3 separate regions of the Homo sapiens genome follow, and all the other regions are linked to region 2. The links come from fine-mapping of genetic effects on gene expression. A gene starts in region 2. Each other region holds a variant in brackets. All regions are shown on one strand. Distances are from middle to middle.

Region 1 (8,001 bases), 320 kb before region 2:
CTGTGCCTGCTGAGTTCCTGAGGGGAGGGACAGCTATTGCCACTTCTGTGGCTGCCTGCGGTCTAAGCCATCTGAGCTCCTTGGGGAAGGGATGGCAGCCAACACTGCAGCTGCTAGCTACCTAACACACTAAGCTCTTTGTGGGGAAGGGCAGCAGCTATCACTATAGCTCTGGGCTGCACTTTTACCCTGCTGGATCCAGGGAGGCTGGATGGCTGGACCCAAGAGGTATCCCCACAGCCCAGCACACCGGTTGTGGCAGACCACGGCCAGATTGCCTCTTCAGGCCAGACCCTGATACATCCCTCCTCCTTGGGCAGGACTTGCCTGCAGGAACTCCAACAACTCCAGCCCAGGGCTCACAGACAGAACTCTGACCTCCGTGGGCCTGAGCCCCTAGTGGAAGGGGTGACCATAATCTCCATGGACCAACAGACTTAGTCTTTCCTCCTGCTAGCTTTGAGGAATCCAGGCAGCCCAGACGAGTGGGTATTCCCTCAGCACAGCACACCCCATCCACTAAGGACAGCCAAATTGCTTTGTTAAATGGATCCTGCTTCCTGTGCCACCCAACTGGTTGAGACCACCCCAACAGGGGTTGTCAGACACCCTATAAAGGAGCATTCCTACTGGCATCAGGTAAGTGACCCTCAAGGTCTGAGATCCCAGAAGAAGGAGCAGGCACCCATCTTTGCTGTTCTCCAGCCTCCTTGAGTGACATCTCCAGGCATGGAAGCAAAACAGATGACTAAGGCCTGAAGTGAGCCACCAGCAAACTGCAGCAGGCCTACAGAAAAGGGACCTGACTATTGAAAAAAAAAAAAAAAGCAACAACAGCATGAACAAAAAATGTCCCCACAAAAACCTCATCCAAGGGTCAGCAGCCTCAAAGATAGAAACTAGACAAATTCATGAAGATGAGAAAGGATCAATGAAAAAAACACTGAAAACCCAAAAGACCAGAGTGCCTGTTTTCCAAATAATTGCAACACCTCCCCAACAAGGGTGCAGTACTGGATGGAGAATGAGATGGATGAATTGACAGAAGTAGACTTCAGAAGGTGGGCAAGAACAAACTTTGCTGAGGTAAAGGCTCATGTTCTAACCCAATGCAAAGAAGCTAAGAACCTTGATGAAAGGCTACAGGAGATGCTAACTAGAATAACCAGTTTAGAGAGGAACATAAATGACCTGATGGAGCTGAAAAATAAAGCATGAGAACTTTGTGAAGCATACACAATATCAATATCCAAGTTGATCAAGCAGAAGAAAGAATATTAGAGATTGAAGACCATCTTGCTGAAATAAGGGAGACAGCCAAGATTAGAGGAAAAGAATGAAAAGGAACGAACACAACCTCTGAGAAATATGGGACTATGTAAAAAGACTGAACTTATGACTGATTGGAATACCTGAAAGAGATGGGGAGAGGGGAACCAAGTTGGATAACACACTTAAGGATTTTATCCAGGAGAACTTCCCCAAACTAGCAAGACAGGCCAACATTCAAATTTAGGAAATACAGAGAACCCCACTAAGATATTCCATGAGAAGATCAACCCCAAGACACGTAATCATCAGATTCTCCAAGGTCGAAATGAAGGAAAAATGTTATGGCAGCCAGAGAGAAAGGTGAGGTCACCTACAAAGGGAAGCTCATCAGACTAATAGAAGGCAGATCTCTTAGCAGAAATTCAACAAGCCAGAAGAGAGTGGGAACCAATATTCAACATTCTTAAAAGAATTTTCAGCCCAGAATTTCATATCTGGCTAAACTAAGCATCATAAGCAAAGTAGAAATAAAATCCTTTTCAGAGAAGCAAATGCTGAGGGAATTCATCACCACCAGACCTGCCTTGCAAGAGCTCCTGAAGGAAGCCCTAAATATGGAAAGGAAAAACCAGTACAAGTCACTGCAAAAACACACAAAATATAAAGACCAATGACACGATGAAGAAGCTGCATCAACTAGTGTGTAAAATAACCAGCTAGCCTCATGATGACAGGATCAAATTCACACATAACAATATTAACCTTAAATGTAAATGGACTAAATGCCCCAATTAAAAGACACAGACTGGCAAATTGGATAGAGTCAAGACTCATCAGTGTGCTGCATTCAAGAGATCCATCTCACATGCAAAGACACACATAGGCTCAAAATAAAGTGACGGAGGAAAATTTACCAAGCAAAATAGCAAAATAGCAGGGGTTGCAATCCTAGTCTCTGACAAAACAGACTTTAAACCAACAAAGATTTAAAAAAAGACGAAGAAGAGCATTAACATAATGGTAAAGGGATCAATTCAACAAGAAGATATATATATATGCACCCAATACAGGAACACCCAGATTCATAAAATAAGTTCTTAGAGACCTACAAAGAGATTTAGACTTCCACGCAATAATAGTGTGAGATATTAACACCACACTGTCAATATTAGACCAATGAGAGAGAAAATTAACAAGGATATTCAGGACTTGTACTTAGCTCTGGATCAAGTGGACCTAATATATATCTACGGAACTCTCCACCTCCAAACAACAAAATATACATTCTTCTCAGTGCCACATGGCACTTATTATAAAATCGACCATATATTTGGAAGTAAAACACTCCTCAGCAAATGCAAAAGAACTGAAATAATAACAGTCTCTCAGACCACAATGCAATCAAATTGGAACTCAGGATTAAGAAACTCCCTGAAAACCACAAAACTACATGGAAATTGGACAACCTGCTCCTGAATGACTCCTGGGTAAATAATGAAATTAAGGCAGACATCAAGAAGTTCTTTGAAACCAATGAGAACAAAGAGACAATGTACTAGAATCACTGAGCTGTAGCTAAAGCAGTATTAAGGGGGAAATGTATAGCACTAAATGCCCACGTCAGCTAGAAAGATCTCAGGTCAACACCATAACATCACAAAAGACCTAGAGAAGCAAGAGCAAACAAGTCCAGAGCTAACAGAAGACTAGAAATAACTAAGATCAGAATGGAACTGGAGGAGATAGAGAAACAACTCTTCAAAAAAATAAATGAATCCAGGAGTGGTTTATTTTTTTGGAAAAATTAACAAAATGGAACACTAGCTAGATAGTAAAGAAGAAAAGAAAGAAGAATCAAACAGACACAATAAAAAATGATAAAGGGGATATCATCACTGACCCCACAGAAATACAAACTACCATAAAATATACTATGAACACTCCTGTGCAAATAAACTAGAAAATCTAGAAGAAATGGATAAATTCCTGGATACATACACCCTCCCAAGACTAAACCAGGAAGAAGTCAAATCCCTGAATCGGCAAATACCAAGTTCCAAAATTGAGGCAGTAATAAATAGCTTACCAACCAAACAAAGCCCAGGACCAGACAGATTTACAACCAAATTCTACCAGAGATACAAAGAGGAGCTGGTACCGTTGCTTCTGAAACTATTCCAAACAATTGAAAAGGAGGGACTCCTTCCTAACTCATTTTATGAGGCCAGCATCATCCTGATACCAAAACCTGGCAGAGACACTACAAAAAAGAAAACTTCAGGCCAATATCCCTGATGAACATCCATGTGAAAATCCTCGATAATATACTGGCAAACTGTATCCAGCAGCACATCAAAAGGTTATCCACCATGATCAAGTTGGTTTTATCCTTGGGATGCAAGGCCGGTTCAACATACGCACATCAGTAAATGTAACCCATCACATAAACAGAACCAATGACAAAAACCACAAGATTATCTCAATAGATGCAGAAAAGGCCTTTGAGAAAATTCAACATCCCTTCATGTTAAAAACTCTATAAATCAGGTATTGATGGAACATATCTCAAAATAATAAGAGCTATTTATGACAAACCCACAGCCAATATCATACTGAACAGGCAAAAGCAGAATATTCCCTTTGAAGACTGGCACAGGGCTTTGAAGACCGGCACAAGACAAGGATGCCCTCTCATCACTCCTATTCAACATAGTTTTGGAACTTCTGACCAGAGCAGTCAAGCAAGAGAAAGACAGAAACGGTATTCAAATAGGAAGAGAGAAAGTCAAATTGTCTCCGT[C/T]TGCAGACAAGATGATCCTATATGTAGAAAACCCCCTCATTTCAGCTGATAAGCAATTTCAGCAAAGTGTCAGATACAAAATCAGTGTGCAAAATTCACAAGCATTTCTATACATTAACAATACACAAGCAGAGAGCCATATCATGAGTGAACTCCCATTCACAGTTGCTACAAAAAGAATAAAATATCTAGGAATACAGCTAACAAGGGTTGTTGTATTAGTCTTTTCACACTGCTGGTAAAGACATACCCAAGACTGGGCAATTTACTAAAGAGGTTCATTGGACTTAACAGTTTCATGTGGCTGGGGAGGTTTCACAATCATGGCGGATGGCAAGGAGGAGCAAGTCACATCTTACATGGATGGCAGCAGACAAAAGGAGAGCTTATGCAGGACATCTCCCATTTCTAAAACCATCAGATCTCGTGAGACCCATTCACTATCATGAGAACAGCATGGGAGAGACCCACCCCATAATTCAATCATCTCCCACTGTGTCCCTCCCACAACACGTGGGAATTACGGGAGATACAAGATGACATTTGGGTGGGGACACAGAACCAGACAATATTATTCCCTCTCATATCTCATATCTCCACATTTCAAAACCAATCATGTCTTCCCAACAGTCACCCAAAGTCTCAGCTCATTTTGACATTAACCGAAATGTCCACAGTCCAAAGTTTCATCTGAGACAAGGCAAGTCCCTCTGCCTATGAGCCTGTAATATGAAAAGCAAGTTAGTTACTTGCTAGATACAATGGGGGTAGAGGCATTGGATAAATACAGCCTCTCCAAATGGGAGAAATTGGCCAAAACAAAGGGACTACAGGCCCCATGCAAGTCCAATATCCAGCAGGGCAGTTAAAGCTCCAAAATGATCTCTTGACTCCATGTCTCACATCCAAGTCACACTGATGCAATAGGTAGGTTCCCATATTCTTTGGCACCTCCACCCCTGTGGCTTTGCAGGGTATAGCCTCTCTCCCAGTTGCTTTCACAGGCTGGCATTGAATGTCTTTGGCTTTTTCAGGCACACGGTGCAAGCTCTCCATGGATCTACCAGTCTGGGGTCTGGAGGATGGTGGCCCTCTTCTCACTGCTCCACTAGGTGCTCCCCCAGTAAGGACTCTGCACGGCATCTCTGACCCCACATTTCCCTTCTGCACTGCCGTAGCAGAGGTTCTCCATGAGGGCCCCACCCCTGCAGCAAACTTCTTCCTGGGCATCCAGGCATTTTCATAAATCTTCTGAAATCTAGGCAGAGGTTCCCAAACCTCAATTCTTGACATCTGTGCACTTACAGATTCAATACTGTGTAGAAGCTGATAAGAATTGGGGCTTCCACCCTCTGAAGCAACAGCCTGAGCTGTACCCTGGCCCCTTTCTTCCATGGCTGGAGCAGCTAGAACACAGTGTACCAAGTCCCTAGGCTGCACAGAGCAGGGGGGGTCCTGGACCTGGCCCACAAAACCATCTTTTCCCCCTAGGCCTCTGGGCCTGTGATGGGAGGGGCTGCTGTGAAGACCTCTGAAATGCCCTGAAGACATTTTCCCTATTGTCTTCAGAATTAACATTCAGCTCCTCATTACTTTTGCAGATTTCTGCAGCCAGCTTGAATTTTGCCTCAGAAAATGGGATTTTCTTTTCTATTGCATTGTCTGGCTGCAAATTTTCCAAAGTTTTATGCTGTGTTTCACTTTCAAAACTGAATCCTTTTAACAGCACCCAAGTCACCTCTTGAATGTTTTGCTGCTTAGAAATTTCTTCTGCCAGATCCTAAATCATCTGCCTCCAGTTCCAAGTTCCACAAGTCTCCTGGGCAGGGGCAAAATGCCACCAGTCTCTTTGATGAAACATTACAAGAGTTACCTTTGCTCCAGTTCCCAACAAGTTCCTTATCTCCATCTGAGACCACCTCAGCCTGGACCTTATTGTTCATATCACTATCAGCATTTTTGTCAAAGCCATTCAGAAGTCTTTAGGAAGTTCCAAACTTTCCCACATTTTCCTGTCTTCTTCTGAGCCCTCCAGACTGTTCCAACCTCTGCCTGTTACCCAGTTCCAATGTTGCTTCCATATTTTCAGGTATCTTTTCAGCAATGCCTTACTCTACTAGTACCAATTTACTTCATTAGTCTGTTTTCACGCTGCTGATAAAGACATACTCCAGACTGGGCAATTTACAAAACAAAGAGGTTTACTGGATTTACCGTTCCACGTGGCTGGGGAGGCCTCACAATCTTGGTGGAAGGCAAGGAGGAGCAAGTCACATCTTACATGGATGGCAGCAGGCAAAAAGAGAGCTTGTGCAGGGCAACTCCCATTTTAAAACGCATCAGATCCTGTGAGACCCATTCAGTACCACAAGAACAGCATGGGAGAGACTCACAGCCATCATTCAATCATCTCCCACCAGGTCCCTCCCACAGCATGTGTGAATTATGGGAGCTACAAGATGAGATTTGGCTGGAGACACAGAGCCAAACCATATCAGACATGAAGGACCTTTGCAAGGAGAACTACAAACCACTGCTAAAGCAAAAAGAGAGGACACAAACAAATGGAAAAACATTTCATCCTCATGGACAGGAAGAATCAATATCGTGAAAATGGCCATACTGCCCAAAGTAATTTACAGATTCAGTGCTATTCCCATCAAACTACCATTGACATTCTTCACAAAATTAGAAAAAAAAAAACTACTTTCAAATTTATATGGAACCAAAAAAGAGCCCATATAGCCAAGACAATCCTAAGCAGAAAGAACAAAGCTGGAGGCATCACACTACCTGACTTCTAACTACACTAAAAGGCTACAGTAACCAAAACAGCATGGTACTGGTACCAACACAGACATGTAGGCCAATGGAACAGAATAGAGACCTCAGAAATAAGGCCACACATCTACAACGATCTGATTTTCAACAAACCAGACAAAAACAAGCAATGGGGAAAAGAGTCCCTATTTAGTAAATGGTGCTGAGAAAACTGGCTGGCCATATGCAGAAAACTGAAACTGGACCCCTTCCTTACACCTTATACAAAAATTAACTCAGGATGGATCTAAGACTTAAATGTGAAACCCAAAACCATAAAAACCCTAGAAGAAAACGTAGGCAATACCATTCAGGACATAGGCATGGGCTAAGATTTTACGATGAAATTGCCAAAAGCAGTTACAACAAAAACTAAAATTGACAAATGGGATCTAATTAATCTAAAGCGCCTCTGCACAGCAAAAGAAACTATCATCAGAGTAAACAGGCAGCCTACAGAATGGGTGAAAATTTTGGCAATCTTCCCATCCAACAAAGGTCTAATATCCAAAATTTACAAGGAACTCAAAGAAATTTACAAGAAAAAGACAAACAACCCATCAAAAAGTGGGCAAAGGATATGAGCAGATGCTTCTCAAAAGAAGACATTGATGTGGCCAACAGACGTGAAAAAAGCTTAACATCACTGGTTGTTAGAGAAATGCAAATCAAAACCACAATGAGATAACGTGGTGTATATATACCACATTTTATTTATCCAGTCTGTCACTGATGGGCATCTGGGTTGGTTCCATGTCTTTGCTATTTTGAATAGTGCTGCAATATGTGTGCATTTATCTTTATAATAGAATGATTTATATTCCTTTGGGTATATACCCAGTAATGGGATTGCTGGGTCAAATGGTATTTCTGGTTCTGTGATATGTATGCATACAAAGGAATATTTTTTCAGCCTTATATGTAAAATCTAAAATACTATGCAGCCATAAAAAGGAATGAGATGATGTCCTTTGCAGGGACATGAATGAAGCTGGAAGCCATCATACTCAGCAAACTAACACAGGAACAGAAAACCAAACACTGCATGTTCTCACTCATAAGTGGGAGTTGAACGCTGAGAACACATGGACACAAGGAGAACAACACAC
Region 2 (8,001 bases):
CCGTTTAAGGTTTATGCCTTTAGCCACATTAAACTCCTCTCAGTTTCTTACATGTAGAGGTCATAAAGTGGTGGCCCTAGGTTGAATTCCAACTACAGATTTGTCTGGTTTGGCCCACAGAATAGTTTTTAAAACATTTGGGTTAGTTCATATTTGGGAGATTTCATATTTATAAAATATGAATTTTAAGCTCCTCTTTAGAAATCAAGGCATCTGGCAACACTTGGCCTGCATCCCAACCTGACAATACTTGGCTGAAATGAGTATCTACTTTTCCCTTTAGACAGCTTGGATTCTCCAGATTGCCACGCCTCTCCCTCCTGCTCTTACCTATGTATTGTTTAACATTTTCTGCCTGACTTCCATTCTAAGGCATCATGCTCCCTTTGGTCTCTTTCAATCTTCCCACCTCTTCAGCTGCTAACTACCACTCATGCTTCAGGTCTTCATGTATTCATGCTGCTAGGAAGTTTTCCTTCACCACCACCAACCCAATTAGGATGAGATGATGCACTGTGTGACATTCACCTACCCAGGACCCTGCTATCCTATCTTCTGAGGTTCTCTTCACTACCCTTATCATGGCATGAATCATATGGCATTATAATTTTTTAAAAATTTTCTTTATAAATTTATAATTCTCTGTTTACAGATCTGCATCCCTCTCTAGACCTTTCAGTCATAAGAAAGTGACTATAACTGTCTTGTATACCATTGTATGTCAGTGCCTAGGAAAAAGCCAAACGTTTAGTGTGGGCTGAATAAACACTTGTTGCATAAATGAATGAAAAAAGTTAGCTGAGGAATGGCTATTTCAAAATATTGGGGAAGAGTGTATTTATATTTTTATATATGTATTCATTTTTAAAATGTGGACCACTGAAATTCCATTCCTTCCCCCCTCCCCCTACCCTGGAGAAACTAAAATAACTACTTGAGTCATAGAGCAATAGCTGTATACTGGCAATGTGCTAAGAACCACACATGGATTAGCTCATTTAATGCTGACAACAGTCCTTTCAGGTTAGTATTTCATTATTCCCATTTTGGAGAGGTAAACATTCAACCCCAGATAAAATGAAGGCCTTATTCTCCACAACACAGTAAATTGTAGGGATACATGATGACTGAAATTTCTGCCAGGATACCTGAGAGCACATGACACCAACAGCAGCTTTATTCACAGCCCATCTTTTGAGCTATTTGTATGTGGTTTTAATAATTAGCTTTCGCATTCAAATGGTAAAGAAAGTTCTTATACACACAAGAAGCATTTATGGCTATTATACCAGATGACACGGCTTCCAGGGCAGTAAGAAGGATCTTTAATCTCATTTCACAAATAGAAAAACAAAGGTATGGAACAATAAAGCCAAGTGTAAAGTTAACATTATGTCCCTCAGGCTGCCCCTCAGCCTGCCATGCCTTAATGTGAGAGTCCAATCAAAGCCTCAAAGCCCAGTATGTAAAGCCTAATAAATTCTGCACATAGCAGATAGATAAATTCTTCCTAGGAGGAGGAAAAGAATCAGAGATGTCACTGAGTCACACAAAATACAACCTAGACAGAAAGTCAAGATCCCTGGTCAATCTTTTCCAGGTGGAATTCTTGCTCATTCTTTGCCCCAAGAAAAAAAAAAAAAAAAAAAAAAAAAAAAAAAAAAACAAAATTCTAAGTCTTTTTTTTTTTTTTTTTTGAGACAGGGCCTCTCTCTGTGGCCCAAGTTGGAGTGTGGTGGCATGATCACAGCTCACTATAGCCTCAACCTCCCAGTTTCAAGAGATCCTCCCTCCTCAGCCTCTTGAGTAGCTGGGACTACCGGCGTGCACCACCACACCTGGCTTTTTTTTTCTTTTAATATTTTTTGTAGAGAGAAGGTCTCACTATGTTGCTGGTTTCAAACTCCTGAACTCAAGCAATACTCCCGCCTCAGCCTCTCAAAGTGTTGGGATTACAGGCATGAGCCACCACACTCAGTCTCACCAAGTCTCGTAACTTTTAAAGTCAAATTTCCAGAGTCACTTCAGGACCCACCAGGCCTTAAGGTCCAGCTTATTAAAAATCTTACATTAAATCTCTGTATATTTTTTCTAGGCATTATAATTTCCTTCCTCAAGGAGTTGAGAAAAAAACTGTATGTGGGAACCACAACATACAGTTGAAGGAAGTTAGAATTAAAATTTCTATAGCTTTTAACATTTGATTAGCACATCATACATGTGTAGAATGTTTTCCTAAGCTTTCATTCTAAAAACACAGAATTCATTTTATTTCCAAGTGCACCTTGATGAAGTAGGAGCACATGGCATTTTATTTTAGAAAGCAATGTCTTAACAAACTTGTTATTTCTTCCAATTATGCAAACTCACCAAATGATTTTTTATCTATTTATTTATTTAGTTTTATCTTTTTTTGAGAGAGTCTCACTCTGTCACCAGGGCTGGAGTGTGTGGAGTGATCTCAGCTCACTGAAACCTCCACCTCCCAGGTTCAAGCGATTCTCCTGCCTCAGTCTCCCAAGTAGCTGGGATTACAGGTGCCTGCCACTATGCCCAAGTAATTTTTTGTATTTTTAGTAGAGATGGGATTTCACCATGTCGGCCAGGCTGGTACGGAACTTCTGACCTTGTGATTTGCCCGCCTCGGCCTCCCAAAGTGCTGGGATTACAGGCGTGAGCCACCGCAGCCGGCCAAATGATGATCTTAAAGGGCCTTTGATAATGCATTCTTGACCTCATTCTACTTGCCATGTATAGTCATTAGAAGACTGTTCATATAAAAATATGAAATAAAACTACATAGTCTTTAAGTTACCTTGGAAGGCCCTTCAGGACAAGGAACATACTCTATATCTTTATATCTTTAAAGCATATAGCAGAGTGCATCGCGGAATGAAAATGCCTATTAAGTCAGGAATGCAGGAACGACAGGGCTTACCATTTAATATCAATTCTAAAGCTGATTATTTATTTTTGAGACAGGGTCTTGCTCTGTCACCGAGGCTGGAGTGCAGTGGTATAAACACAGTTCACTGCAGCCCTGACTTCCTGTAAAGCTGATTTTTTAGGCCATTTACTTGCTTTATAAAGTAACTAGAATGGCATGAACTATGCTTTTTTGTGCCTGTGATTATAAACTGAAAATTTACAAACAATATGTCACATGTTATTTGAGCTAAATGTCTGATTTTACTAAAATGAAAGTATCCTTCCTGGATTATTAGAATTAGCAGTAAATTTAAGTTTGCACCTAGAAGAGAAAAGCGATTGTAAAGAATGTAAAACATCTGAAGCAAACAAAGTCCAATAAGATCTTCCTTCTACTTGAATTTCTATGACCACAAAGGCACAGGATGTAAGGTCCATAGCTTTGTACACAGGGATTGGTGGGGACGACACGATTTCAACTCTGAACCCCAATGACCAGCTCCAGGAACACATGCCTTTTAGCCCCGCAAAGCTACTGACCAAATCACCCAGAGAGATAATCACATCTCAGCCAAAGGACCTGAACTCAGACGATCAGAACACAGGACCTGCCATCAGGCAGCTGCACGAGACAAGAGACCGTGCTCAAAATCACGTAATACCCTAAGTCATCCCAAGGGAGCCCCACAACTACCCTCAGCGGCAGGCAGAGCTGACGCATATTTTGCAGATGACAACATACAGGTTCCGATGGGGCGGGTCCCAAGGCCACAGAGCTGGGAAGGTGACTGAACCTAGACTTAACTAGTATCCCAAGTGGTGGATACTTCCCATTCTGCCTTGGAGATCGCCCTTCGCCCGCGTATTACATTCGGAGGCTGGCAAAACGGCAGGAAGAGAGCAAAGCTGGGCAAGGACGGGAAAGAAAGAGGGGAAGGAATTTCCACTGCTTCCCGGCACTCGCCCCCACTCCACACCCCAGGTTGCTACTCCGCGGCGGCCTCTACTTCCCCAAACTAGACTGAAGGGCGGGCGGAGAACCGAGGAGGCTTTCTAGGCGTCACGGAGAGTTCTCCAAGTTGGGGGCAGAAAAGGCGAATGAACAAATTGTACCCCCTAGGGAGAGGGCACAAGGAGAAGTGCGGAGGTGAGAAGGACCGGAGGGGAGGACGACCCCTCACAAACTGGCCAGGGACTTAATAATGGTGATGAAGGGTCGTGAGAGAGGTTTGGGAAATGCGAGAATAGCTCAGTCCCCAAAATCCTCCCTGGCCGCATCGCTGGATCCCCGCCCCATCCCCCCACCCCCGACCCGGGCAGCCCGGGAGAAAAAGCAACAACCTCCTGGGGCACCAGGAATTGGTGGCAGCAGGATCCCGAGCCCAGGCCCCCTTCCGCGCCCCCACCCTCACCCTTGCCCTGACCGCCTCGCAGTGGCGGCAGCAGCGGCAACAACACCAACCTGCGCGACCACGGGCTCTGTCCGGGACGGAAGCCGGAGCCTGCGGGCGGCGGAGCGGCGGGCGGAGTTAGTTGGAGGCTCCGGCTCCCTGGGCGGGGACAGGCTGAGCACGCGGAGGCAGCGGCGGTGGCGGGGGCTCCCTCTCCTCGGCGTGCGCCGGGCCCAGCCGGGTCCGCCGCTCGCCCTCGACTCCTGGGGCAGGTCTCAGTCCCTCCCCGGGGGCGGCTCCCGGGCCAGCCCCGCGCTCGCCTCCTCCACGCCGGCGGCCTCTGCTCCGCCCTGCCTCTTTGGGCGCAGGGGGCGCGGAGCTTGGGAAGTGGAGCCCTGGCGAGTCCCCAGCGATTGCGCGCAGCTTCCCGGGGTTTCCCTGCGGGGGTCGCGTGTGCTGGGTGTCTGAACTCACGCGCGGGCCAGAGGTAGCCAAGAGCTGGAACTCTTGCCCAAGTGCCCCGGGGAAGGGAGTGAAGGCCCGGCCTGAAAGTCTCTGACCCTCCCGAGTCTCGTGTCCCTAGAAGCAGCCTTGCGAGGTGGCCACGCCAGCTGCCCTGAGAGAAGCAGAGGAAAATGTCCGACTCTCCCTCCGCCCAGCTTCGCGCCAGAAGAACGTTTCCCGAGAGAAGGAAGGACCCATTGACCCCCAGCCCTTGCTCCAGCCTGGAGACCTGGCTGAGTGCATGGAACTGGAAGGATGGCAGAGTACCGGGGCTGAAAGCCTGGGAAATGTGCTATTTCTATTCACACCACCCCCTTGCCCGGCCCCTGGATTCAGGCCACCTCGCTCAGGTCTGCGCAGTGCTTCCCAGTTCACACCTCCGACCCGAGGAGGGAGGTCGGTATCCCTTTCTTAGCCTGGCTTCCCGCCTCCATCTGCATCCCTTTCTGCTAAACCTTTTTAACCCGCAGAGTGCCCAGCGCGCACACACCGATCACTTCGCCCCTAAACTGCGGGCAGGGAACTCTGGAGCCACCCACATCCCCAGCCTCACCCCAAAGCAAGAGAAAGCAGGGAGCCGCGCGTGGGGTGGTGGGGGCGGGGCTGGAGAGTTCCAGTAGGAAGGTTTTATACCCAAGAGGCTTGATGATGTGCAGTACTGACCCCACACACAAATTGATATGCGTTTAATTGAAGGCAGGTATTTGCCACTGTCTCTCCCTGTCTGCAGGTAACCGCTTGAGTGCGTTCACCTCGCCTCTTCCATCCCCAGCGCCAGCCCAGCCCCCTCTCTTTCTCCCAGAGTCCCATCCTCCTCTCCCTCACCTCTCCCATCCCAGCTCCCTGCAGCGCGGGTCCCGAGCTGCTCCAGATCCCCAGCACCCAGCTCTGGTCTTTCCAGACAACTCCTCCCCTTCAGAATCTGGTGTGGTAGCAGGGAGGTTGTGAGAAGGGACACTGAGGAAGATAAAGAAGGAGAAGCCAGTGGACTGGGAAGAAGGTAGGAAAGTGCGAACCGAAGGGGTACACCGGAGAGGAGCTATGGGAAATGAGGCAAAGCCTTCAGGCTATAGGGGGATTCCCAGAAAGAAAATCATTTTCTCCATAGGGAAACTACCGATGCTCGCTGTAGACCAGTTGGAAAATCTGTTGTACACCCTCCCAACAGAATTCCTAGTGAGCAGTGGCCAGACTGGTCAGGGCCTAGAGCATGTGTCCAGGAACTCCATCCACTTCCCAACCCAAATTCCAAGGCAGGCGGATGACCCTCATTTTGGAAACTTGATTCTGAGAAGGTGCGAGAAGACACCGAGCTGAGTCTGTTTACGGATCCCGGGCTGTTCTTCATCTTTAGGCATCTCCTAAGTCACTTTATCTCTTCCTCCTGGTCTGGGTTGTTAAGGAAAGCAAGCACTTGAGACCCTCCCTCAAATACGTCTCTCCTCTGTGTGTGTGTGTGTGTGTGTGTCACAGAGAGAAAGTTTGTGGTGTGAGAGAGAGAAGAAAATGTGGAGGGGCAGGAGTTCTAGGCTATGGTGTTTTGTTTCTCTTTGTTTTCTTTCTTCAATTCAGTACATTTTTGTGCCAAGATGATTTTCTTGTTCAGTGGTGACTATATTTTTGCCTTAAATGTGGGAGAGTAGTTGGGACAACACTTCTAAATGTAACCTGACGGTAACCTCTCACACCCTCAAGGTCCTGGTGTGTCTGGAATTGGTGAGTTCTTGGTCTCACTGACTTCAAGAATGAAGCCGCGGACCCTCTCTGTGAGTGTTACAGTTCTTAAAGGCAGCATGTCTGGAGTTTGTTCCTTCTGATGTTTGGATGTGTTTGGAGTTTCTTCCTTCTGGTGGGTTCGTGGTCTCACTGGCTCAGGAGTGAAGCTGCAGACCTTCGTGGTGAGTGTTACAGCTCATAAAGGCAGTGTGGACCCAAAAAGTGAGCAGCAGCAAGATTTATTGCAAAGAGCAAAAGAGCAAAGCTTCTCCAGTGTAGAAAGGGACCCCAGCGAGTTGCTACTGGGGCAGCCTGCTTTTAGTCCCTTATCTGGCCCCACGCACATCCTGCTGATTGGTCCATTTTACAGAGAGCTGATTGGTCTGTTTTACAGAGAGCTGATTGGTCCGTTTTGACAGGGTGCTGATTGGTGCGTTTACAATCCCTGAGTTAGACACAAAAGTTCTCCAAGTCCCACTAGATTAGCTAGATACAGAGTGCTGATTAGTGTATTCACAATCTCTTAGCTAGACATAAAGGTTCTCCAAGTCCCCACCAGATCAGCTAGATACAGAGTACTGATTGGTGGATTTACAAACCTTGAGCTAGACACAGGGTGCTGATTGATGCATTTACAAACCTTGAGCTAGACACAGAGTGCTGATTGGTGTATTCACAATCCCTTAGCTAGACATAAAGATTCTCCAGGTCCCCACCAGATTAGCTAGATACAGAGTGCTGATTGGTGCATCCACAAACCCTGAGCTAGACACAGAGTGCTGATGGAGCAGGGGGCAGCGCTAGTCTAGGAGGCTTGGGGAGGTTCGGTAGCGCAGGAGCCCACAGCCTTGGGGGAGGCTCAGGCATGGCGGGCTGCAGGTCCCGAGCCCTGCCCCGCAGGGAGGTAGCTAAGGCCCAGCGAGAAATCGAGTGCAGTGCCAGTGGGCCAGCACTGCTGGGGGACCAGGCGCACCCTCCGCAGCTGCTGGCCCGGGTGCTAAGCCCCTCACTGCCCTGGCGGGCGAGGCCGGCCGGCCACTCCGAGTGTGGGCCCGCCAAGCCCACGCCCACCCGGAACTCTAGCTGGCCTGCAAGCGCCCTGCTCAGCCCTGGTTCCCGCCCTCGCCTCTCCCTCCACACCTCCCTGCAAGCTGAGGGAGCCGGCTCCGACCTCCGCCATTGCAGGAAGGGGCTCCCACAGTGCAGCGGCGGGCTGAAGGGCTCCTCAAGCGCGGCCAGAGTGGGCGCCAAGGCCACGGAGGTGCCCAGAGCAAGCGAGGGCTGCCGGCATGCTGTCACCTCTCACTGGTTGGCACAGCCAATTTTAGCTGTGCTGTCAGACGCCCAGTAGTGCACCTCACCTCAGAGCCTCAGACTTACAGCCTCAAGGCATTCCATTCTGTGTGCAGGCCAGCTTGGGCAGTGGAGCCAACCACCTCCACTTAGGTGAGGAGAAGCCTCC
Region 3 (8,001 bases), 38 kb before region 2:
CCTAAGCATACAGGAAAGGTGGAAGGCTAATACCATGTACTTTATATGGCTTCTAACATGTAAATACATTTGACCTGATACTATTTTAAAAAAATGTTTGTATTTAGCAATCTGATTATACTTAAATATTCTTAAAACCTAAATGCTGGAACATTGCCAATTTTCTCTTCTCTTTCCTACCAAAATGACATATCTCTATCAATAATTCTTTGGAAAAATATTCAAGGCACTCTCAGAAAAATTATTGTGCTTCATTATGCAAAATGGAAATGCAGCTTTAAAAAATATTCTGCCTGACATTCAGTTCTGTATACTGCTACAGCAGGTCGAAAGCCATTAGCCACCTGCTGAAAACACATACTAGGAAACAAAATGTCCTTCAAAATCATTTTGCATAAGGTATTCTCTAAGCAAAAGGGTGAGGTTATATTCTAAATGTTTATGAATGTGATGGCTCAGAAATACACTCACCATGACATATTAATTTTAAAATAATATTTAATAATGATCTTATGATTTAGAGCATTCACATTGGATTTTTAAAAGCACCATGTCTATTATGAGAGAAATGAAAGTTACAGAAGATACATAAAATAACCAGTTCCATGGCTGTTGTTGTCTCCTTTTCCAATAAAAATAAGAGACTCATTATTATTCCTGGGATTCTTAGGACAATCTCTTTTATGCCAGTAGTCTTCTGAAGAATGACCCAACAGTCCTTTGGTATGTTAAAGATATTCTTTAAGTCTGTTTTTTACAGAAGAAGCAAAACACCAGCCCTTGTGCTGTTGCACATTCAAAATAATTCACAATTCATTTTTGTTTAGCATTTTGAAACTTGGCAATGAAGCATATGGCTCTCTATCATTATTCTATTATTAGGTTCCATTAGCAATAATTAGATAAATGGTCATTTAGCACTTTGTACAACCAGGTACTGAGTTAAGTGTTAGACACACCTTAATGCATTCAATCCATGTAACGACTTTATGACACAGGTAATATCTATTACCATTTTACAAATAAGAAAACCAAGGCACAAAGAGGTTAAGCAGCTTGCTCATAGTTACACAGATAGCAGATGACTATTTCAAAAAGGGAAATTTATAGCTTCCCTCATGTAAGATGAGGGAATGTGAGCTTCTGAATGTGATGAGCAAACGAAAGAAAATGAAGGAGGCAAAGTACAAAGAGAGTTGAATGAAAGGACTGAATTGAAAGAAATGCTTTCTCTTTCACAATTTTCTCTAATCTTATTTGGCTGACTGTGGTGCTCAAAAAAATGACAATAAACAGGTAAGAGAATTATAATCTTACCAAGAGCAAAGATGACTCCTACCAGACTCCTACCAGACACTAGGAAGATCAATTTTTCTTGCCTTATTTAAAAGGTGAATTTCCACTGTGTGGAACTGCAAATATCCAATCTCATTGCCCAAACTCTGGGATGACATCTGGGAAATAAATAAACATTTTGGTACCATGTCAGATTCCCTGGTTGCAGAGGCACAGATCGATCTATGAGTCCTAGACTATTGACCGACAAACCTGGTTCCTAACATGGATTGCAGGTGACCTTTGGAGACTGACTTCATGAAGGGCCCATGGAGCTCACAGACTATTAGCTACAGAGGGTCCAACTCCACTGGTGTTGCCCTCATTAACTTGAACAAATAAAAACTTGTTTGTACAGATCTCAAATTACCTCCTGTTACAAATGTCCAGTGCCTCTTCCAAGGGCCCAGATCCAAAAATCTGTCAACAGATCACAGGAGTTTTTGCTGAGGCTGGTGCATATTCTGATTTGTTTGGATCATTTAGAAGCCTTTAAACAAAATATCACAGGCCTCTAAATCTTCAAGTATAAACTAAAAAAAATAACTCATGGTTAATAAACTATGAACTCCAACAAAATGTGTCTGACAAAATGGAAATTGTAAAACATTTCAGGAAAAAATGCACTAAACTCTCTGATAATGAGGTTGGAAAAGATTCCCTTTTCCGCACCCAAAACAAAGGAATGAAAATCCCTGCTTTAAGTGAAGAGAGTTGCCATTTATTTTATGGCTGAAGACCAAATTATACATATTTTTGTGACTTTCCGTTAGGGATCAAGGTCAATCACCAGATTTTTCTCTCACACCAACCACACGGCAGCAGCACAAATACGTATGTTCCTCATCCCTTTCACTGTGAATTTTTAATTTTGGTTTTCCCTCTCAGAGCAGCTAAGATTTCTTCATTTGTCAAAAGGGTAGCCATTAAGAAAGTCATTTAGTTAATAAACAAGGAAATTAGCTAGCCTGATACAAAACAGATAGTAACAACACTAACAGCAATCTGTACACGCAAATTAAAGCAGCGAGAGTTGCTCTGATAAGCACTTTTAAACTGTTAGTGGTACTCCAAAAACGGCATCACCAGTATTAGAGGTTAGACAGCAGTTTAAAACATTTCTTCCTGTCTCATTTGGTTCCTGCAAAAATCTCAATAGTAATTTTTGAGTTTTACCTAAGGATGTGCAGAGAAAGACATCAGTAGAAAGAGGAAACAAGAAGTATCAAAGTAGGATAACTCATCTCCCATTCCAAGCACTTTTCTTTTTCTTTTTCTTCTCTTCTTTTTTTTTTTTTTTTTTTTTTTGAGACATTGTCTCACTTTGTCACCCTGGCTGGAGTGCAGTGGTGCCATCATGACTCACTATGGCCTCAACCTCCCGGGTTCAAGTGATTCTCCTGCCTCAGCCCCACAAGTAGCTGGGACTAACAGAGCCCACCACCACTCCCAGCTAATTTTTTTATTTTTTGTAGAGATGGGGTTTCCCTATGTTGACCAGGCTGGTCTCCAACTCCTGGGCACAAGTGATCTGCGAGCCTCAGCCTGCCAGAGTGCTAGGATTACAGGTGTGAGCCACCGCACCTGGCCCCAAGCATTTTCCTGCATCTTCTTTTGTTACTCTTTGGAGCAACCAGCTAATGCTTGTTTAAGTTTGAGGAAAGCCAAATAACCTAAGTAAACAACACAATGGACACAGGACTTGTAAATCTCATGAAAGACAATGCCAGATTTTAAAGTACATAGTCATCAAACAAAAAAATTAGCATCAGAATGTTCATAGCCACATGTAAATGTTCTATATTTTTTAAGCTGATAATCTCTATTTAATTTGTACATGTAATAATTTTTTGGTGGTGGAATCAGCATAAATATAAATATCACTGTTTCATATTGAATCAAACTATCTTCAGTTTTCTACAAAAAAAATAAATCTTTTTTTTCACCTAACCTTCCTTGGTACAAAAATTAAATCTTTCTTAATATAGAATAGGAAGAATCTGCTAATTCAATAATACTAATTTCTTTTTTGCTGATTAAAAAAGGAATGAAAAAAATCTCCTCATCTAGTCACTTCCTATAAAATGCTTGAAATGCTTTGTTCACCATTGGCTTTAATAATTCCTTCCTTCAGTTGGTGGAAAATGTATCTGAATCAGTAAGAATCTACTTCTGCCAATTCCTTTCAGGAAGACAACCTTCCACCTACTGAAATCACACCTCCACTCCAGGCTGTAGCCATTCCCAGCCTCCCTCCTTCACCTCAGTGGGACCTTGTTATCCTGATCCGCACAGCATTATGCTGAACTCCCAAGATAAGGGGAACAGAAAATAACCAGTAACAGGTATACATGTTTAAACTATCATTAAAATAGTTCTATAAAATAGAAAGCCAGAGTCTCAAGGGGGTAGCTGGCCAAGGATAAATAAACCACTTCAAGTATAATATAAATTCAAAAGTGTTAAATAAATAATAAATTTTACTTAAATCTACCAAATAAAAAGATAAGTAGTTATATAAATATGGTCAATACATTTTTTAAAAAGAAAAAAATATGCATTTAATTTGTTAAACCAAAATACTCAGATAAATATAGCATAATATATTCAATACATATTTCACATATTGCTGACTTTAAAAGTTTTTTATTCTAAGTATAAAAGTAATCTTCTCTTACTATAATCACTACAAATTGATAAATTAATTGTGTATATAAACTTAGGATAAAATACTTGCTATAATTACTTAAAGCATTTAATATTTTCAAAAGTGTTTTAAAATCTGTTCCTGGCTCAGTTTCTTAAATGACCAGGGATATTTCTATATTGCTGCTTGTCTGAGCTTTGAAAAAAACCAGTACTTAAAATGCTGCATTTAAGCAATAGCTGTTTTAGTTAAATACATTCTAATAGTTCCAAAATTTCAAACATTTCCACTGACAAGTGTCTTTGGTTGTTGTTTTGTTTTGAGACAGTGTCTCACTCTGTCACCCAGGCTGGAGAGCAGTGGTGCGATCAGGCTCACTGCAGCCTCCACCTCCCAGGCTCAAGCAATCCTCCCACGTCAGCCTCCCAAATAGCTAGTACCACAGGTGTGTGCCACCATGCTCAGCTATTTTTTTTTT[C/TC]ATTTTTTTTTGAAGAGACAGGGGTCTCCCTATGTTGCCCAGACTGCTCCCAAACTCCTGGGCTCAAGGGATCCTCCGAATCTGCCAAAGTGCAGGGGTTACAGGCATGAGCCACTGCACCCAGCCCAATTTACAAGTCTTTAACTTAAACATTAGAAATGGAAAAGCCTAGGCACTTTGGACTTAATTTACACGGAGGGAATTTTAAACGCAAAGAATCTTCGGTGTTCTATAAAAAATTCACACATTCAGAGAAGGTATCTTACCTAATTTTTAAAGGAAGAAAGGAAAAAGTATGAGTAAAACATTATTTTAGTGGAGAATGTTGTGCTCCTATGAGGCCCAAGATTCATAACCAACCATGATGCCAAAGGGGAGATTTTTTTAGAGGAATGAAAAAATTATTCCAATGTTACTTGATCAACACTAGACTCCACTAGGAGGCACTCTGAACTTACGTGCTACTGTATGACCTAATACTTTTGTGTCACTTTTTGTGTGTGTGTGGCTGCAGAAAGCACATTTCCTGCTCATAATCAAAGTGTCAGCCAGTAAGAGACCACCATAATAACTGTGGTAGGAGCCTCAAAAACTGAAGCTGTATTCTGATTTGTAAGAAAACCAATGGTAATCATGTGTTACAAACTCTTCACTTGATAAAATGATGGTTTCAGGGTTCCTTTAAATAGGGAAGACTTCTAATGTACTGAGAAGAGATTCCAAATTACAAATACTAAATTTGTCATCAGCCTTTCATGTTATTACACTGCCCCATTCCAACTCTTCACAATGCCAGTCAGTGGCAAATGGGTTACCATGCATTATGTTTTTAAAAGCAGAAAAGAGTGCACACAAAGTGCCCAAAGGCAACCAAAAAGACCTTAACAGCCAATTGCTTGGCAAATAGATAAAGAAGAAAAAAGTTTATGTAATTGCTACCTGCTTTTTATACAAACACATGTATTTCCTGGAACATGGTAAATGTTTGTTTTGAAAGTAACCTCCATAGTCTTTCCCCACGTCGTTTATCAGTACTGGATTGGAGAGCAGTTTATGACAATAAAGATTTCATTTACCTTTAATATTTTTCTCAACATTAAGATTTTAGATTACTTTTGTCACTTCTTATTCCCTCCAGCATATACACAAACCCACATATACACACACATTAATGTTAAGCTTCATATGTCTAAGGTGAATTTCCTAAATTCCATACATACCATGTTTAAATATAAATTACAACCCCCAAACAATAAATGGCTCTAATCTCCACTTGTGAAAAAAAAGAAGGATCAAAGAGTTTGTCAAACACTCTGCTGTAAAGAACACAAATCTGAGCAATAGTCCATTTTTTATGTTCACCCTTATTAGTATGGGTACAACTTCTCCCAATGTTTGTATATTGCCCAGTAAAGATGACATCTGGTGTTGTTTCAACAATATTTGGAGTAATGAAGCAGATCCAAATTAAAATGTTCCCTATAGCTATATTTTCCTTCAAGAAACTCCTACGATGTCCTAGATAAAACCCTAGAAACAGGCTATGTGAAACTACCTGGTTTATCTATTGTAAGACTAAATACAACTAATTAATTGACAGGATTTCAACCCAGGGTTGAAAGAAGGGAATTTACTACAGTATGCCTATCTTGCATTCAGAAACAAACCCCAAATAAAGTTAGCTATCTAAAGAGGTTTTTTGGTTTGGTTTTAAAATTTATTTTATTTTTTCTTCAGTAACACTTGGCAAAATGTTGAAAACAGAAGAATCTGCTGGAGAAAAAGTAGTTGCAAAAGAAATAAAATACAACTGGGTTAATGTCTTTAACACATAAATAAGTCTTACAAATATAAAAGAAAAGAGGAAAACATCAACAGAGTAACCACATGTAGAAGTAAAAATAATATAAAAATGTTCAAAAATAATATAAAAAATGTTCATGTTATCAATCCAAGTTATAACGTATTCTTGAATTGGCAGTTAAAAAAAAGAAAGCTAATTTCAGGCTGGGAAATGGGTGTTCTCATACAGACTGCCACAGAAATATAAACTGTCACATGGCTTTTTTAAAGAACAATTTGGCATATACGTATCAAACACATAAAAATATCCACACTCTTCTACTTAATTTTACTTCTAGAAATTTATTTTAAGAAAGTAGAGATAGGAAAAAATTAATCTAAAAGTATTTTCATCAGAGTGTCATTTATAACAGCAAAAACAAATTTCTAAGATCCCAATAATAGAGGACTGATAGAGGCATAAAATAAAATGTAATGCAGCTACTTAGATGCAGCTGTAAAAGAACATTTAGTGACAGGAGAAAATGTTCACTATCTAATGCTCAGTGAAAAATATTGCTCAGTTATCTTAATTTTATGTCTTATGGTTTTGAATCTCTGTTTGTATATGTGCATATATGCATGAACAGAACAGCAGAATGGCTGACACACAAACAAATGATATCAGTGCTTATCTCTGGGTAGTAAAATAATGGGTAATTTAAAAATATTGTCTTCTTTGTGCTTATGTTTTTTTGCATTTGACAATTTTTCATAATGAACAAGTATAATTCAAGAAAACAATGGGGGGAAATATAATTGCTCAGAAAAATAAAATTATGTGACTTCTTATATCTGATGCTCAGTTTCTGATAACTAGAATAGCACTGCTGAGAATAATGAAAATAGTGTTCTGTAAGAGGCTAAAATTGATTCTATGCCCACAGAAATGAAGAGAGAGGCATCGCTTCTCTACCTGGCAAAAGTATCTCTGTCTAACCTAATACCATATGAAGAAGCTCTATCTAACCTAATACCACACTATTAGGATAGGTTTCTCATCACTTAGATCTATTCCCAGGATAATAGTCAAATCATCCTCATAAGAACCACAGGCTTATTGAAAGCTACTGTCATTGTAAAATAAGCAGTAAGATGGCTACAAGCTCTGCTGTGATCTCTCTAAACCTCTTTGTGCATCTATACAATGGGAATAATAGCACTATCGATCCTAGAGGCAGTCTTTCAGCCAAACCAATTGTCCATCCTCAGATAAAGTTACTGTTTTTTTATATCAACAACAAAAATTTGCGGCATAGCCAGGACACATTCGTTTCCATAATCTCCTATGTCGGACAGGACATGTTTTAATTATTTGTATTTTAAATGCTGTGTTTTCTATCTGTTCACTGAGCATGTAAGCAGACTTTAAGAGTTGCAGTTAAGCTGATTATTTTGCACATGAAGCTATGTCTATAATTTCCTGAATAAACAAATAACAATCAACAAATATTTACTGAGCATCTTCCATGTTCCAAGAATTATGTGAAGTACTGAAATAAAATATTTTTTAAATATGGGCAAATCATTCCCCAGATCACATACAAGATAAGAAAATTGTATTTTTCCCAAATTTAGTCTAATGATAACTACTGAATATTTATGAATATGAATAATTAGCTAACCCTTACATTTGTCTTGTTAGTTTCTTTTCTAAAGGACTGGAAGCATTTTATTACTTTATAATGCCATTTTAGTA

Alleles and levels. Alleles are on the strand shown, and positions count from the first base shown. SD is a standard deviation of normalised expression in the study named. Not every link is listed here.
For the expression in whole blood of the gene that starts at base 4,434 in region 2, TC is the high allele of the variant in region 3 and C is the other (large effect, 1.2 SD a copy in TwinsUK).

Evidence for each region. PIP is the estimated chance that this variant, and not a neighbour inherited with it, causes the effect. A credible set is the group of variants that fine-mapping cannot tell apart.
Region 1: its variant is the best candidate, but not a certain one, in a credible set for the expression of PAM in whole blood (INTERVAL, PIP 0.57).
Region 3: its variant is the best candidate, but not a certain one, in a credible set for the expression of PAM in whole blood (TwinsUK, PIP 0.57).

The regions. Positions count from the first base shown.
Region 1 is chr5:103,072,087-103,080,087 of GRCh38, reverse strand. No RefSeq gene overlaps it. Among named protein-coding and RNA genes, the nearest start is that of GIN1, 44 kb to the left of the region's middle. The variant C/T (reference allele first, on the strand shown) is at 4,073.
Region 2 is chr5:102,751,738-102,759,738 of GRCh38, reverse strand. PAM (peptidylglycine alpha-amidating monooxygenase) reads right to left here and starts at 4,434. Exons shown (of 26, transcript NM_001177306.2): 1 at 4,391-4,434. RefSeq lists enhancers at 3,711-3,800, 3,372-3,872, 4,880-5,405 and a silencer at 4,191-4,740.
Region 3 is chr5:102,789,832-102,797,832 of GRCh38, reverse strand. All of the region lies in intron 1 of PAM (peptidylglycine alpha-amidating monooxygenase), which reads right to left. Among named protein-coding and RNA genes, the nearest start is that of PAM, 39 kb to the right of the region's middle. The variant C/TC (reference allele first, on the strand shown) is at 4,461.